4 linked regions of the Homo sapiens genome follow. The protein of the gene in region 1 purifies or fractionates together with the protein of each later gene. This does not show direct contact. Each region holds a gene or a part of one and is shown in the gene's direction. Other genes may lie near its edges.

Region 1 (3,903 bases):
GAGATTGCGCCACTGCACTCCAGCCTGGGTGACAAACCAAGACCCTGTCTCAAAAAAAAGCTAGAAACAAGAAGGAGCAAGGACTTCACAGCCAGAAACAGGCCAATACAGCAGGAAGATACAGCAATGATACGTGTGAATGCATCTAACCACAGAGCCCAAAATCCATGAAGCAAACACCGATCGAATGGAAAGAAATGGATCATTTATTAATTAGAATTGGAAATGGCAGCTGGGCACGGTGGCTCGGGCCTGTAAACCCAGCACTTTGAAAAGCGGAGGCAGGCGGATCACGAGGTCAGGAGATTGAGACCATCCTGGCTAACATGGTGAAACCCTCGTCTCTACTAAAAATACAAAAATTAGCTGGGAGTACAGGGCGCACGCCTGTAATCCCAGCTACTCGGGAGGCTGAGGCAGGAGAATCGCTCGAACCCGGGAGGCGGAGGTTGCAGTGAGCCGAGATCGCGCCACCGCACTCCAGCCTGGGGGACAGATGAAGACTCCGTCTCAAAGAAAATAAAATAAAAAAATGAAAAAAAAACTTCACGGATTGAATTACGTAGAAAGCCAGTTTACAAATGTGGACAAAAACGCGATAAGCAAGCTTCTGTTTAGGGGGAATGATGGCGTGTGCCTCTTCAGGGACCGCTTGGAGCAGTTAGAAAGGAAGCGGGAGCGGGAGCGCAAGATGCGGGAGCAGCAGAAGGAGCAGCGGGAGCAGAAGGAGCGCGAGCGGCGGGCAGAGGAGCGGCGCAAGGAGCGGGAGGCCCGCAGGGAAGGTAGGCGGCGCGGTGGGCAGCTGTGCTCGGCGGGACGCGTGTCTGCTGCCCCCTGGTGCTGGGCACTTGCTGTCACAGGCGGGCGCTTGGTTCCGGTGCTTGCTTTTCGCCCCTGCCTTTTTTTTTTTTTTGGAGGCAGAGTTTTGCTCTTGTCCCCCAGGCTGGAGTGCGGTGGCGCGATCTCGGCTCACTGCACCCTCTGCCTCCCGGGTTCAAGTGATCCTCCTGCCTCAGCCTCCGGAGTAGCAGGGATTACAGGCACCCGCCACCATGTTCAGCTATTTTTTTATATTTTTAGTAGAGACAGGGTTTCACCGTGTTAGCCAGAATAGTCTCTTGATCTCTTGGCCTCGTGATCCACCCACCTCGGCCTCCCAAAGTGCTGCGATTACAGGCGTGAGCCACCGCGGCCGGCCAGTACGAGCTTTTATAGTCACCCACGTCCTCACCTTAATGGAGATCTTTATTTCTTCACCCAGCTTCCGGTTTCTGTCTCGCGTCCTTTCCTTACACCCCACACAACTCCCTGGAGCTTATTCTTCAAGGCAGGTCTAGGTCTAGTAGTAATGAACTCCCTCTGCTTTTGTTTATCTGAGAATATCCTCATTTCTCCCTCATCTTTGAAGGAAAGTTTGCTGGATACGTGGTTCTTGGTTGACAATTTTGTTGTTGTTGTTTTGAGACAGAGTCTTCTTCTGTTGCCCAGGCTGGAGTGCAGTGGAGCGATCATAGCTCACTGCAACCTCGAACTCCTGGGCACAAGTGATCTTCCCACCTCAGCCTCCCGCGTAGCTGGGACCTACAGGCGTAGCGTGTGCCACCACACCTGGCTCATTTTTCAGTAGAAACAAGGTGTCCCTGTATTGCCCAGGCTGGTCTTGAATTCCTGGGCTCAAGGAACCCTCATGCCTAGCTGACAGTTTTTCCTTTTCACTTGGACTATTTCAGCCCATTGTCTTCTGGCCTCCAAAGTTTCTGATGAGAAATCTGATGATCTTATAGAGGATCCCTTGGATGCTTTAATCTGATGACCTGATTGAGGATCCCTTGGATGCTTTGAAGATTCTCTTTGCCTTAGGCTTTCAACTGTTTAATAATGGGTTTTCCTGTGGGCCTCTTGACTTCATTCTACCTGGAGTTCACTGAGCCTCTCTAATGTTTATATTTACGGTTTTCATCCAATGTGGGGGTTTTGAGGAATTCTTCAGATACCCTCTCTGCTCCTCTCCTCCCTCCTGGGCTCCCACAGATCTGTTGGGGTCCCCGAGGCCGCTCAGCACTGCTCCCTTTTCTTCAGTCTCTTCTGCTTTCTTTTCCTCAGACGATGTGATTTTATTGTCTTCAGGCTCACCGATTATTTCTTCTGCCTGCTCACATCTGCCTGTGAGTTTCTGTTGTGAATATTTACTTTTTAGTGTCTATTGTGAGCATGTACTTATTAGCTCTGGAATTTCTCTCTGGTTTCTTGTTGGATCTTCTGTCTCTGTTGATATTTCCGTCGTGTTCACGCGTCATTTTCTTGACTTTCTCCACATCTTCCTTTCGTTCTCTGAGGAACTGAAGGTTAAGACAGTTCCCTAAAGTCTTTGGGACATCTACCGTCAGGTGATTTTCAGGAACCGTGTCTGTTGGCTTCTTTTTTTCCCCTCTGAATGGGACATACTGTCCTATTTCTTTGTTTCTCTTGTGTTTTTCTTAGTCAAAAAAATGGACATTTGATTCTCATGATGTGATTCTTCCTGGTCCCCACTCAAGGGTGTGCACTTGTTGTTTTGGTTGTGCTGGGCTGTGTCTGTGGGGTCGGCCTGTTGTGGAAACTCAGGGTCTTCACGGGTCTTTTCTGAGCCTGAGCCTTTTCCTGGTCACGTGCAGCCACTTTTTAACGTTCCCGTCAATACAGATGTTTTTAATGTTCTTGTCCTGAAGTGTCTGCCTCCTAAAGGGGGAATAGAGAGAAATGAAGGGGGCAACGGGGGACGTGGTGCTCATGCCCTGGAAGTACCTTCAGCTTGGGGGTGGCCGTGGCTGCTGCCTCTTCATGCCTCTGGGGTGGGACACGCAGTCATCACACTGACCTCGGGTGTGTGTGTCCGTCTGCCCACCTGGGTCCGGCGAGCTGCATGCAGGCTGCTGCCTGCCAGCGGGGAGTGAGGTGGGAGCCACTAATGTGCGAAGCGGTGACGTTGATTAATGAATCACAGTTTACTCTCCAAGATTCCCCCTGAAGTTGCAAACCTTCAGTAGACTCCAGAGCACCTCAGTAGTTGCACAGGCCTGATCCTGTGATGCAAGTGTTGTCTCGGTGGGGAGACTGATTCCCAGTGCTTCCTACTCCATCTTTCCAGAATCTTCTCCCGCCCCTTCCTTTTTGACCAGTGAAGATCAGTCTAGAAGGTCCACCTGGGTCCTCGGGCTCACGGCCTCCAGGTTGGAGCTTTTTCTCCCTGGGCTTCCTGGGAGACCTCTGGCCTCTGACCCCGATGCTGTCAGCACCCTGTGCACGCTGTGGGTGTGTCTGCCAGGTGCGGGTGTGGGAGACGAGGCAGCTGTGCCGGGTGGGGCCTTTTGAGGAAGGCAGTGCTGCTAGTGCCATCTCCCTCTCTGCCCTGCGCGCCAGTGTCTGCACATCACCGAACGATGAGAGAGGACTACAGCGACAAAGTGAAAGCCAGCCACTGGAGTCGCAGCCCGCCTCGGCCGCCGCGGGAGCGGTTCGAGTTGGGAGACGGCCGGAAGCCAGGTGAGGCCAGGCCGGCGCCTGCGCAGAAGCCAGCACAGTGTGAGTCTTTTCTGGGGGATGTTTGGCATAAGTGTGTAGGATTCATTTAAAGCCCAGCTAAGTAACCGCTTCAGAAGAAAGTGAGAGATGTGCTGGCTGAAGTCCTCTCGTGTCGTGAGAGGGACCGTGAGTGTCTGTGTGCGGCCAGGACACAGGACGTGTGTTTATCCGCTGGGACATTCGCCACTGGCCCCGTTAGAGAAGTGGCTTCCAGCGTCTCTGGATGAGCTGGTTTCCGACCAAGCAAAGTTAATCGTTACGTGAAAGGCACTAGTTTTGGGGTGGTGGTAGCTTGTTTGTTTAAAAACATTTCCCCAAATTCACCTTTATGGTTTATCTCAT
Region 2 (3,824 bases), on another chromosome or scaffold:
TAGCAAACAAAGAGACAGACTGTTTCCTTTACTAATCATGTCTTTATAATCCGATGCCTATTTTAGCTGTTTTTTGACCATCTGTCTGTGTTTTGTTTACCTACAATCTAGCACTCTTATTGCCACTGTTGTATCATGATTCCACAAAAAAAAAAAAAGATATTGAAGCATTAAAATAGAAACAACATAATCATTCAGGTTATTGGGCCATGTTAAAAGTTGAGCCACCTAGCCAAAATGCACTTAAGTACACGGTGGGTCACAATTAAAATGGTTATGCATTTTTTTTAAGAGGGGGAATTGCTTTTTTACTCTACTAGCTAAAAAGGCATGAACTCAGATTTTTCAGGCTGAGATGTAAAAACCTATGGTGTTACTGCATTTACAAAATAGCATATACCTTGAATAACAGTAAGAGTCTGCTTTGTTACCTATATGGATCTAAATCAGTCTGTTGACACAAAATCTCTAATGGCAGAGTATCTATGATAGTCTACTCACACCTCTTTTTTTCTTCGCAAAAATATTAACCATACCATAATACCTTAATATTCATAATGAGGCTTAAGAATGCATCAGTAAGAAAACAGACTTAAAGAAATGTAATAGTTCTGTGGTGTTTGGAAAAAATAAAAAACACAGTTACTCACCATTAAAAAACCTCACCTCTAATCTCCCTTGCTTTCTATGAAGCTGAAATTACATTTCTTTTACTCCGTGTCCTATATTTAAACACAGAATCTCATAGATAATAATCATTCTACTGTAAGTTAAAATAAATGTAGTCTGCACACCAGTGAAGGTCAAATATAATAGAAACTAGAAGATCTTATTTTTTATCTCAAAATGCTACCCAATTTCTAAGAAATTTCTACTCAGCTAGCCTGAGGCTTTGATAAAGAATAAAAGTTTCCCACTTTGTAATTACAAACTTGTGATTGCTTAACAATGCATTTTCACTTACAAATCATGCTCTGGAAAGAAAAACAATGCACAAGAGCTTTTAGCAACTGGAAAGTTATTTGATTACAACTCTTTTGCAAAAATGAACTCCATATTTAACTGCAATCAGCAACCTTTTAAAAGCCTCTTTTGTGCTTAAAACCAGGCTTCCCAGAGCCTGCATCAGTCATAATTGGGTTTCTGAAGTCTACATAGCTCAGTTCATTTGCCTTCTGTGTTCAGATTCATAAGAGAATCAGAGTTTTATTAAAAATAAATAGGAAGAGGGAGAAATCCCAATATGCAGCATTGTGAACAAATCGATCTTTTCCAAAATGTCCACTGATATTTATGTATGCTGTATTCTGTCATTTATTTCAGCTGCTGGTAGGGATCATTCAGGCTGCCGAACTGCCCGCCTTGGACATGGGGGGCACATCTGATCCTTACGTGAAAGTGTTTCTGCTACCTGATAAGAAGAAGAAATTTGAGACAAAAGTCCACCGAAAAACCCTTAATCCTGTCTTCAATGAGCAATTTACTTTCAAGGTATTTGTTAACATTTATTTATAACCTTTCCTTTGTTGTTTTACTTAAAAGACTGATCTCATCCTGACACATACATAGACATGCACATGAATGCTTGTTCAGGCACTCACAATAATTCCAGTCAGAATATGCAAAATTCTTATCTTCACTACAGTCAACATTCGATATTGCCTTTCAGCGTGTTCAGAGTAGGATTCGGTTCAGTCATTTCAGAATGGAATGGACTAGAACATGACTAGGATGTCATAGTCACATCTAAAAAGTGAGATCCCTCCCTGAAATAAAGCCAAAGGAATGAAATCATTATTTTTCTGAATTTCAAAGTTTGTGAAAATAAGTACATCTGTTACAATCCCAGGATTAAGTAAGCTGTGTCCCAATGCTTAAATGGTACAAATAGACATGACTCTTGTAACAAAATTGTGTGTGTAGAGGGCAATTTGAGCACTTCAAAGTCATTCTTCTTAACTAATCAATAAAAGGAATATGAACATATTTTTTATTGCATTTCTAGCCTTCTTCCTTTACTCTAGGTTCTGCCCTGATGTTCTTCATCTTGTTGAGGCACCTCAGTTGACAAACAACAGAGAGATTCCAGCCATATAATATCTCATCAGGAAAACATGTCCTGCAGGTCTCCAGGATCTTCGTGGATCTTGGCTTGAAATCATTCATTAAAAACAATTCTTTTGGTGGATATCTTTAACGTGCGAAAAAAACTTTTTAATGCATTACTTAGAACAATATGTTTCTGAAAAATGAAATATCTGTGAATATGCCAGCAGGCTAATTCAAAATCACCACGTCCATCAGCCAGGCTTAGCATATGCCTTGTGTTGGCAAACATTCTGGGATGAAATAAATTGAAAATGAGGGCATGAGTCATTTTCTCAAACCTTGTTTTCAATTATGTAAAGGGGAAGTGTCTTTCTATTCACTCTAAAATTTCTGAGTTTTCAAGACAAAGGTCCCTCATGTATTGTCAGTAATCTTATTTAAAATCTGGTTTTTCTGTACCTAAGCAGTGAATTTAAAGTAGCAGTAAAGACATTCTGGAAATACTCAGTTCATGAAGAGTATCTGCTCATGAAGCTTAATCACTATAGTCAACATACTACGAAACGTAAAATGGAAATAAAATTTTAAAAATATTGTAATAGTAATCACAGTTGTTTTATTCATCTATTTATTAACCTTAACTTAGGTCAGCAGTTTCTGACCAAAACTTAGTAAGGAAATTCTTAAATTATATGAGCTAATGTATTGGGGCTTTGTTTTGTATTGCATTACCTACATTATTATTTCTTTAAAAAATGCTAATAATTTTATTAGTAATTTCTATAAAACCAAGTATAATTATTGAAATTTTTGAATTCTCTATACATTTTTATCAAGTTTCATTTTATTTCAGAAAGGTTGATCAAACTATACATAAATCCAAAGTATAATATATTCTGCTATATTAAAAAATACTTCAATTTTTCTAGAGAACTGGTTAGACATTGTAGATTACTCATCTTGAAATGCCAAGAGGCAATATGATACAGGAATGGAAGTATAAAAGACTTTAAAGAAGCCTGGCTTTACAATGGATTTAAATCACTTAACAGGAACTCAACATGCCCCAAATTAATTCATCTTCTTTTCCCCCAAAACAGTTATCTGAAGGAGCTACTAATCATTCAAACAATAAATATTTTTAAGTGCTTCTTCTGTGCTAGGTGTTTTACATATATTCATTCATCCCTAAAATAGCCCCATGAAGCAGCCATTATTACAGTATTATCACAATTTAATAGATGAATAAACTTATGTTTAATCACGTGCCCCAGGCCCTTTAGTTGGAAAGTCCAAATCTGGTACAAGGTCTGTCTGACCCCAAGTCCAGGTTTTTGACTGTTGCTCTTTGAGTACAATCACTAGAAAGTCTAGAGAGATTTTAGATATACAATAACATTTTCAAGGGTTTATCCTTACTCTAAAAAATTTTGTTTCTTTCTTTGAGAGTCAGCTCTTTGGAAGGGTTTATTTTCCATTCCTTCTAAAATGGAAAAAGGATGATGCTTACTTTTTAATCATATCATTTTAATAAAATAATCAGGTTCCAAACAGATGGTAAATAAATGACAGAAAAGAAAAACTCTTTGGAAAACTAAAATTTCTTGTATGTAGATGGCCCAATATTCTTCCTTTTCTTCCCTCCTTAATATACAGAGTTAATTGAGAAATGTTTGCTGAAGCATAAGACAACCATTTACACTGATAAAATAATAGGAAGTGTATGAAAATTGATCAAACCTTTAAGACAAGTCTAAACAATTTCTTAATTAGGT
Region 3 (3,824 bases), on another chromosome or scaffold:
TTTAGTGACTATAAGAATGGTTTAGTGTGCTGATTATTAAGACAGAGGTTCAGAGCCATCATAGAAAATTGATATTTTAGTAGTTCGTTTGTTTAGCTTCAGGGCAGTGCAATATGGAAACTCTGGAATTTCCTGAATCTTTTTTACTTTAAAAGCTCTTTATATGGATTGCATTTAATCTTTGTAGTCTTTTTTATGTAAGCACCATTAGCATCCTGTTCTCTAGCCAGCAGCACCAGTAGTGAGATGTCATTTTCAGTTGTTAGATTATTCATGGGGGCAGGAAGCATAAAAGGTAGCCTGGTTGTAGAAAGGGCACTGACATTGCAGTTAGAAGGTCTAGGGGTCAAGTCAGACTCGCTGGAGGGGTGATCGGAGTTAAATCACTTTCTCTTCCTGCCTCAGCTTCCTCCTGGGGGTTGTTGTAAACCTCAAGAGAGATTATATACATAAGAACATTATGTAAATGTAAACTATCACTAACTCTAAAAAATAACTTTGTTTAAAATAACCCACTTAAAGTGTATAATTCATTGGTTTTTATATGTCCACAGAGTTGTGCAATCATCACCACAATTAATTCTAGAGCATTTTGTCACTCCTGTATTTCCCCATAAGCCTCCCAGCCCTAGGCAACCACTAATCTCCTTTCTGTCTCTCTAGATTTGCCTATTCTGGATATGTTTATTATTATTGTTGTTGTTATCAAGACAGGGTCTCGTTCTGTCACCCAGGCTGGAGTGCTGTGGCATGATTATAGCTCATTGAAGCCTCGACCTCCTGTGTTCAAGCAATCCTCCCACCTCAGCCTCCCAAGTAGCTGGGACTATAGGCGTGTGCCACCACCTGGCCAATTTTTTAAACTTTTATTAAAGAAGAGGTCTCGCTATGTTGTCCAGGCTATTCTTGAACTCCTAGCCTCAAGCAGTCCTCCTGCCTTGGCCTCCCAAAGTGTTTAGATTACAGGCATTAGCCACCATGGCCGACCTGGATATTTTATATAAATGAAATCATAATATGTAGTCTTTTGTGACTGACTTCTTTCACTTAGTATGTTTTTGAGGTTTATCCATTTAGCATGTATTAGTACTTCACTCCTTTTTATGTCTGAGTAATATTCCATTTTATGTATATACCACATTTTGTTTATCTGTCCATCTGTTGATTTATATTTGTGGTGTTTCCTCCTTTTTGCTATTGTGACTGGTGCTGCTGTGAACGTTTATATACAACAATTTGAGTACCTATTTTCAGTTCTTTTGAGTGTATACTGGAAAGTAGAATTGCTGGCTGGTACGGTAACTCTTTCTAACTTTTTGAGAAACTGCAGCTGCATCATTTTAGATTTCCCATCGGCAATAAGTGTACTAGTTTCTCCACCTCTTCACTAACACTTTAACACTTGTCTTTTCCTTTTTTTGTTGTTGTTGAGACAGGGTCTCACTCTGTCGCCCAGGCTAGCTAGAGTTCAGTGGTATGATCATGGCTGGCTGCAGCCTCAATCTCCTGGGCTCAAGCAGTTCTCCCACCTCAGCCTGCCAAGTAGCTGGGACTACAAGCATGTACCACCATGTCCAGCCAATTTTTAAAATTTTTGTAGAGACAGGGTCTCACCATGTTGTCCAGGCTAGTCTCCAACTCCTGGACTCAAGTGATCCTCCTGCCTTGGCCTCCCAAAGTACTGGAATTACAGGTGTGAGCCACCGTGCCTGGCCTCCCTTTTTGTGATAATAGCTATCCTGGTGGGTGTGAAATGGTCTTTCATTGTGTGTTTTTTGTTGTTGTTTGTTTGTTGTTTGTTTTCAAGACGGAGTCTCACTCTGTCGCCAGGCTGGAGTGCAGTGGCGTGATCTTGGCTCACTGCAACCTCCGACTCCTGGGTTCAAGCAATTCTTCTGCCTCAGCCTCCCGAGTAGCTGGGATTACAGGCACATGCCACCATGCCCAGCTAATTTTTGTATTTTTAGTGGAGATGGGGTTTCACCATTTTGGCCAGGATGGTCTCAATCTCCTGACCTCGTGATCCGTCCACCTTGGTTTCCCAAAGTGCTGGGATTACAGGTGTGAGCCACTGCACCGGGCCTGTTTGTTTGTTTGTTTATTTTTTGAGATGGAATCTCACTCTGTCGCCCAGGCTAGAGTGGCGCAGATGAGTACAGCAATACCCTATATATGTTCTCTTTCTCTCTCTTTTTTTTTTTTTGAAACGGATTCTTGCTCTGTCGCTAGGCTGGAGTGCAGTGGCGCGATCTTGGCTCATTGCAACCTCCCTCCCGGATTAAAGCGATTCTCCTGCCTCAGCCTCCCAAGTAGCTGGGACTACAAGTGTGCGCCACCATGCCCAGCTAATTTTTGTATTTTTAGTAGAGACGGGGTTTCACCATGTTGGCCAGGATGGTCTCGATCTCTTGATCCCCCCGCCTCGGCCTCCCAAAATGCTGGGATTACAGGTGTGAGCCCCTGTGCCTGGCCCGTAGTCTCTCATTTTAAACATATTCCAACTTAATGCTATCAAATATTTTATATTTTGTTGTAATTAACATATTAAATATTTTTAATGTACTTAAAAGGTACACCAGAGTTTCTTGCAGGAAAGCCAAAATATCTATTAGCTCCTTTCCCTTAGTTCCTTTCTCCTATCTAATAGAAATCAGTTTTTATATACATTTCATTGCTACTTAAAAACCAAATATCTTTTAACCAGATTTGAAATCAAGAAAAAACTAAAAACAGCCAAAAAGAAAGAAAAGAAAGAAAAGAAGAAAAAGCAAGAAGAGGAGCAAGAAAAGAAAAAACTGACACAGATTCAAGAATCTCAGGTAGGAGATTCAGTGTTCCTCATTGTCCAAAGAATAAACCTGTTTTGAGTGTGTGTGTGTGTGTGTGTGTGTGTGTGTGTGTAAAAGGTGGATTTATATTAATCAGCCTAAGTTTATAAGACTTGTGACATGGTTTCATTAATCTCTGGACATATCACCATTAGCTGTGCTGTTAAATCCTTAGCACTTTTTCCTTTGCTTTCCTTTTTCCTTTTCTTTTTTCTTTCTTCTTTCTTTTTCCCTTTTCTTCCCCTCCCTTCCTCCTTCCCCCTTCCCTTCCTCCTTCCCTTCCTCTTCCCTTTCCCTGGTCTCATTATGTTGCCCGGGCTAGAATACAGTGGCTATTCACTGGCACAGTCATAACACACTGAAGCCTCAAACTCCTAGTCTCAAGCAGTCCTCCTGAGTTGCTGAGACTACAGGCATATGCTACCGTGCCCGGCTTTCACTGAAGTCTGCATTTAAAAAGCAGCCCTCAACTGCAGTGACTCACATGTGTAATCCCAGCACTTTGAGAGGCCGAGGCAGACAGATCACTCAAGGCCAGGAGTTTGAGACCAGCCTGGCCAACGTGGCGAAATCCTGTCTCTACTAAAAATACAAAAATTAGCCTGGCGTGGTGGCTTATGCCTTTAATCCCAGCTACTCGGGGGGCTGAGGCACAAGAATTGCTTGAACCTCAGAAGCGGAGGTTGCAGTGAGCTGAGATCATGCCATGGCCCTCCAGCCTGGGCAGAAGAGCGAGGCTCTGTTTTAAAAAAAAAAAGCAGCCCACTAGTGAGTGACCATCCCTTAAGGAAAAGTTGGTAAACAACCTGTCCTAGGTAGCCAGATGCTTATGATGTTTACTTAGATGTATATCATCCTTTACTTGGTATAAATATAGCTGGGAAAATAATCTCTGTATTTATCATAAATGAGACTCCATCTCAGAAAAACAACAAAAAAAGATAATGTGGGGCTGAGTGTAGTGGCTTATGCCTGTAATCCCAACATTAGCTGTGT
Region 4 (3,824 bases), on another chromosome or scaffold:
CTTCTGTGGCCAAGCCCAGAGTCATTGTGGGTGGTGACCATTCAAAGGTGTGGATACAGGGAGATGTGAAAAAATTGGGGGCCATTACTGCAATAATTCATAATAATTAGCAATGAATGTAAGCTGTTAAGCTTTGATAAATCTTGTTAAACACCCATTTCTGAATGTAGTGTATTCTAGAGACTAAATAATGTGATTGTGCCATTGGTAACACCTCTTCCACCAAGTGTGGAATGGAGTGATGGTTTTTCTGGGAAGAAGCCAAAGGCAGACAGTGTGGTTTTGGACATAGATATTCTTGTGAGTGGCTTAACTGCTTTCTGATCTTGTGTGGCTATTATCAAAGGAGTCTCTAGATTTCCTCAACCTTCCATTCAAGCATTATCACGAAAACCCTAGTGTATTAGACTCTACTAGATTTTGTGGTCAAGCCAAAAGACCGTTATTTGGGAACCACCACCACTTAAGAGATGAAAGAAACATTTGCAGTCTTTCCTTGGAACCTTTATATGATTTATAATTTGTACCTAAGAGAGGAAATCCGTATTTGAGCATTGGTAATAAGGACAAGGGATTCTCTGTAAATGTGTTTTAATTGGTTAAGATTTAAAAATCTTCCTGTGGTTGCAGTGAAAAATCCAGCATTGTACTGTGAAGTGAGTGGCCAGGAATTACCAATTTGGGGCATCAGCCTTTGACCTTTGCTTGTGAAGATCTCAGAAGTAACACTTTCCACATAACTGAAATAGGCTTCACAACAGCTTGTGGCCTGAAATATATTACATGAAAATGCAACTGGACCCCAGGAAGTATGTGTGGGAAACTATACAAGGCTCATTTTGTATGTCTTAGAGATGTACATTCCCCCAGAAAATTGCCTGGTGGTAGAATGTTAGCTTTTCTTCTTTCCTCCTAGGATAAAAATTAAAAATCTCTGACATTTTAAAAGTCAGTGACTTGAAAGAGCAATCAAAATTTATAAACACACACATCATTAGACCCCACAAACACTTCCAGGAATTTATTCAACAAATATTTGCATATTAATTGGAGTATTGCTTGTAGTAGCAAAAGATTGGTAATATCCTAAGGGTCAATCAAGAATATTGAAGACACTGATAGTTTTGGAACACGCATGACCAAGCAGGTAGAGGGTGAGAGGGAGACTTTTCACTACATAAACTTTTACGTATGTGTTTTGAATTTTAAGCAATGTGAATATATTTTCTTATTTTAAAAGTTAAATACATTTTTTAAAGAGATGATATATAGTGATGCAAAATTCCATAGACTCCTATCCGAGTTGACCTGATCAGAGCTATTCCTGTTCAAAAAAAATCTAGCCAGTTTTTCCCCCTAGAAATGCCTCACGATAGTGTACTTCTGAATTTTTAACTATAATTCTGCCTTTTCCAGAATATCACATGAGTGGAATCATGCAATATGTAGCCTTTTTTTGGTCTTGCTTTTAGTGGATTCATCCATATTATGTGAATGAATAGCCTGTTCCTTTTCATTACTGAATACTATTCCATTGTATGGATGTACCACAGTTTGTTCATTCACCTGTCGAAGGACGACTTAGTTGTTACCAGTTTTTTGGTGGTTTTCAATAGAGCTGTGGTAAACATTAGTGTACAGATCTCTGTGTGGACATAAGTTTGCAGTTTATTGGGGTAAATACGTAGGAATGGGATTAGTGGATTTTTCTTTGACAGAAATTACCAAACTATGTTCCAAAGTGGTTCTACCATTTTATATTCTCCTGCCATGAATGTGATTCCACGTATGGATGTCTAGTTGTCCCAGCACCACTTGTTGAAAAGACTACCCTTTCTCCATTGAATTGCCTTTGCATATGTGTCAAAAATCAGTTGACTATCCTTCTGTGGATCTATTTCTGGGCTCTCTGTTGCATTGATCTATATATCTATCATTTCTCCATTAACACACAGTCTTGATTATTATAGCTTTATAATAAGCCTAGAAATCAGGTAATAGAGTACTCTGGCTTTTTAAAATCTTTCTCTCAGGGTATGCTTAAGTTACTTTTTAAAAAAATTTTTTTATAGAAACAGGGTCTCACTGTATTGGCCAGGCTAGTCTCAAACTCTTGGTCTTAAGCAGTCTTCCCACTTTGGCTTCCCAAAGTGCTGAGATTACAGGCATGAGCCACCACGTCTGGCTTTTTTTGCTTTTTAAGAGACAGGGTCTTGCTCTGTCACCTAGGCTAGAGTGCAGTGGCCCCATCATAGCTCACTGCAGCCTTGAACTCCTGGGCTCAAGTGATCCTCCTGCCTCAGCGTCTTGAGTAGATGGGGCTATGGGCACATGCCACTATGCCCACCTATTTTTAAATATTTTTTGTGCAGAGATAAGGTCTTGCTATGTTCCCCGGGCTGGTCTTGAACTCCTGCCTCAAGTGATCCTCCTGCTTTGGCTTCCCAAAGTGTTGGAATTACAGGCGTCAGCCACTGCACCTGGCCTGGCTTTTTTCTTCTTTTTCAGAGTTGTAGTGGTGAGAGAGGACATCCTTAACTTGTTCCAATCTTGGAAAGCATTCCATCTCTCACCATCAAGTATGATGTTGTAGGATTTTTTTTTAATATACTGTGTTGTGCAGAAAAGAGTTAACATAGCAGACCTGAGGCTGCTGTCTTTAGAAGGCCAACGTGCACGATTGGCCCTTAGCTGGTGTTTGGGAAATTGGCTTTTCAAATGTTTAAAAAGAAAAGATTATATTCTACCTTCATTTATTCCTTTTCCAATGCTTTTCATTTCTTTATGGTAATCCAGGTTTCCTACCTTGATCACAGTCTTTCTGCTTAAAGAATCCCCTTTAACCTATCTTTTGAGGGCAGATCTGCTGGCAGTAAATTCTCTGTTTTTGGTTGTCTGAGAAAGTTTTCATTTTCCTTCACTTTTGAAAGGACACTTTTGTGGGTTGACAGTTGTTTTTCCTCTTTCAACATAGTACTCCACCATTGCCTGGCTTACGTGATTTCTGATGAGAAGGCTGCTGTAATCCTTTTTTTTTTTTTTAATACCTTAAGTTCTGGGATACATGTACAGAATGTGCAGGTCTGCCACATAGGTATATATGTGTCATGGTGGCCCGCTGCACCCATCAACCCGTCACCCACTTCAGGCACCTCTCCCAATGCTATCCCTCCCCCAGTCCCCCATCCCCCAACAGACTCCAGTGTGTGATGCTCCCCTCCCTGCGTCGATATGTTCCCATTGTTCGACTCTCCCACCCATGAATGAGAACATGTGGTGTTTGGCTGTCTGTTCCCGCGTTAGTTTGAGGCTGCTTTAATTCTTATCCTTGTTCCTCCATAGTTAATGTGTCTTTTTTCCTCTGACTACTTTGAAGATTTTCTTTTTGTCTTTGGTTTTCAGCAGCTTGAATATGATATGCCTAATTGTGGCTTTTAAAATTTTTTCATTTTTGTCCTGCTTTGTGTTCTCTAAACTTTATTATATCTGTGGTTTGTTGCCTGTCACTAATTTTGGAAAGTTTCTCAGCCATTATTTCTTCAAATAATTCTATCTTGTTCTTTTTTTTTTCTCTTTCTGGGATTCTAATTACAAGTGTGTTATACTGTTTGTTATTGCCCCACAGTTCTTGAGTGCTCTTCAGTATTTTCATTCGTCTCTTTTTAATTTTTATTGACTGATCAATAACCTTGATCTTCAAGCTCACTGAGTCTTTCCTTGGCTATGTCAAGTCTACTGTTCAGCCCATTGTTTTTCTTACTGTTTTTTTTTTAATTTCTAGCATTTCCCTTTGATTCATTCTTACAGTTTCTATCTCTTTGCTG

Evidence for each region. The genes of interacting proteins can lie anywhere in the genome.
Region 2: the proteins of CDK11B (region 1) and SYT1 purify together in Homo sapiens (co-immunoprecipitation; one large-scale study listed by IntAct). This does not show direct contact.
Region 3: the proteins of CDK11B (region 1) and RTF1 fractionate together in Homo sapiens (co-fractionation; one large-scale study listed by BioGRID). This does not show direct contact.
Region 4: the proteins of CDK11B (region 1) and JADE3 purify together in Homo sapiens (affinity purification with mass spectrometry, with the first as the bait; one large-scale study listed by BioGRID). This does not show direct contact.

The regions. Positions count from the first base shown.
Region 1 is NC_000001.11:1,642,005-1,645,907, reverse strand, and holds part of CDK11B (cyclin-dependent kinase 11B), read left to right. Parts: intron 1-618; coding exon of another isoform or gene 619-645; coding exon 646-782; intron 783-3,399; coding exon 3,400-3,522; coding exon of another isoform or gene 3,523-3,561; intron 3,562-3,903. UniProt on the Homo sapiens protein: Plays multiple roles in cell cycle progression, cytokinesis and apoptosis. Involved in pre-mRNA splicing in a kinase activity-dependent manner. Isoform 7 may act as a negative regulator of normal cell cycle progression.
Region 2 is NC_000012.12:79,294,746-79,298,569, forward strand, and holds part of SYT1 (synaptotagmin-1), read left to right. Parts: intron 1-1,323; coding exon 1,324-1,491; intron 1,492-3,824. UniProt on the Homo sapiens protein: Calcium sensor that participates in triggering neurotransmitter release at the synapse. May have a regulatory role in the membrane interactions during trafficking of synaptic vesicles at the active zone of the synapse.
Region 3 is NC_000015.10:41,462,067-41,465,890, forward strand, and holds part of RTF1 (RNA polymerase-associated protein RTF1 homolog), read left to right. Parts: intron 1-2,704; coding exon 2,705-2,819; intron 2,820-3,824. UniProt on the Homo sapiens protein: Component of the PAF1 complex (PAF1C) which has multiple functions during transcription by RNA polymerase II and is implicated in regulation of development and maintenance of embryonic stem cell pluripotency.
Region 4 is NC_000023.11:46,918,893-46,922,716, forward strand, and holds part of JADE3 (protein Jade-3), read left to right. Parts: intron 1-3,824. UniProt on the Homo sapiens protein: Scaffold subunit of some HBO1 complexes, which have a histone H4 acetyltransferase activity.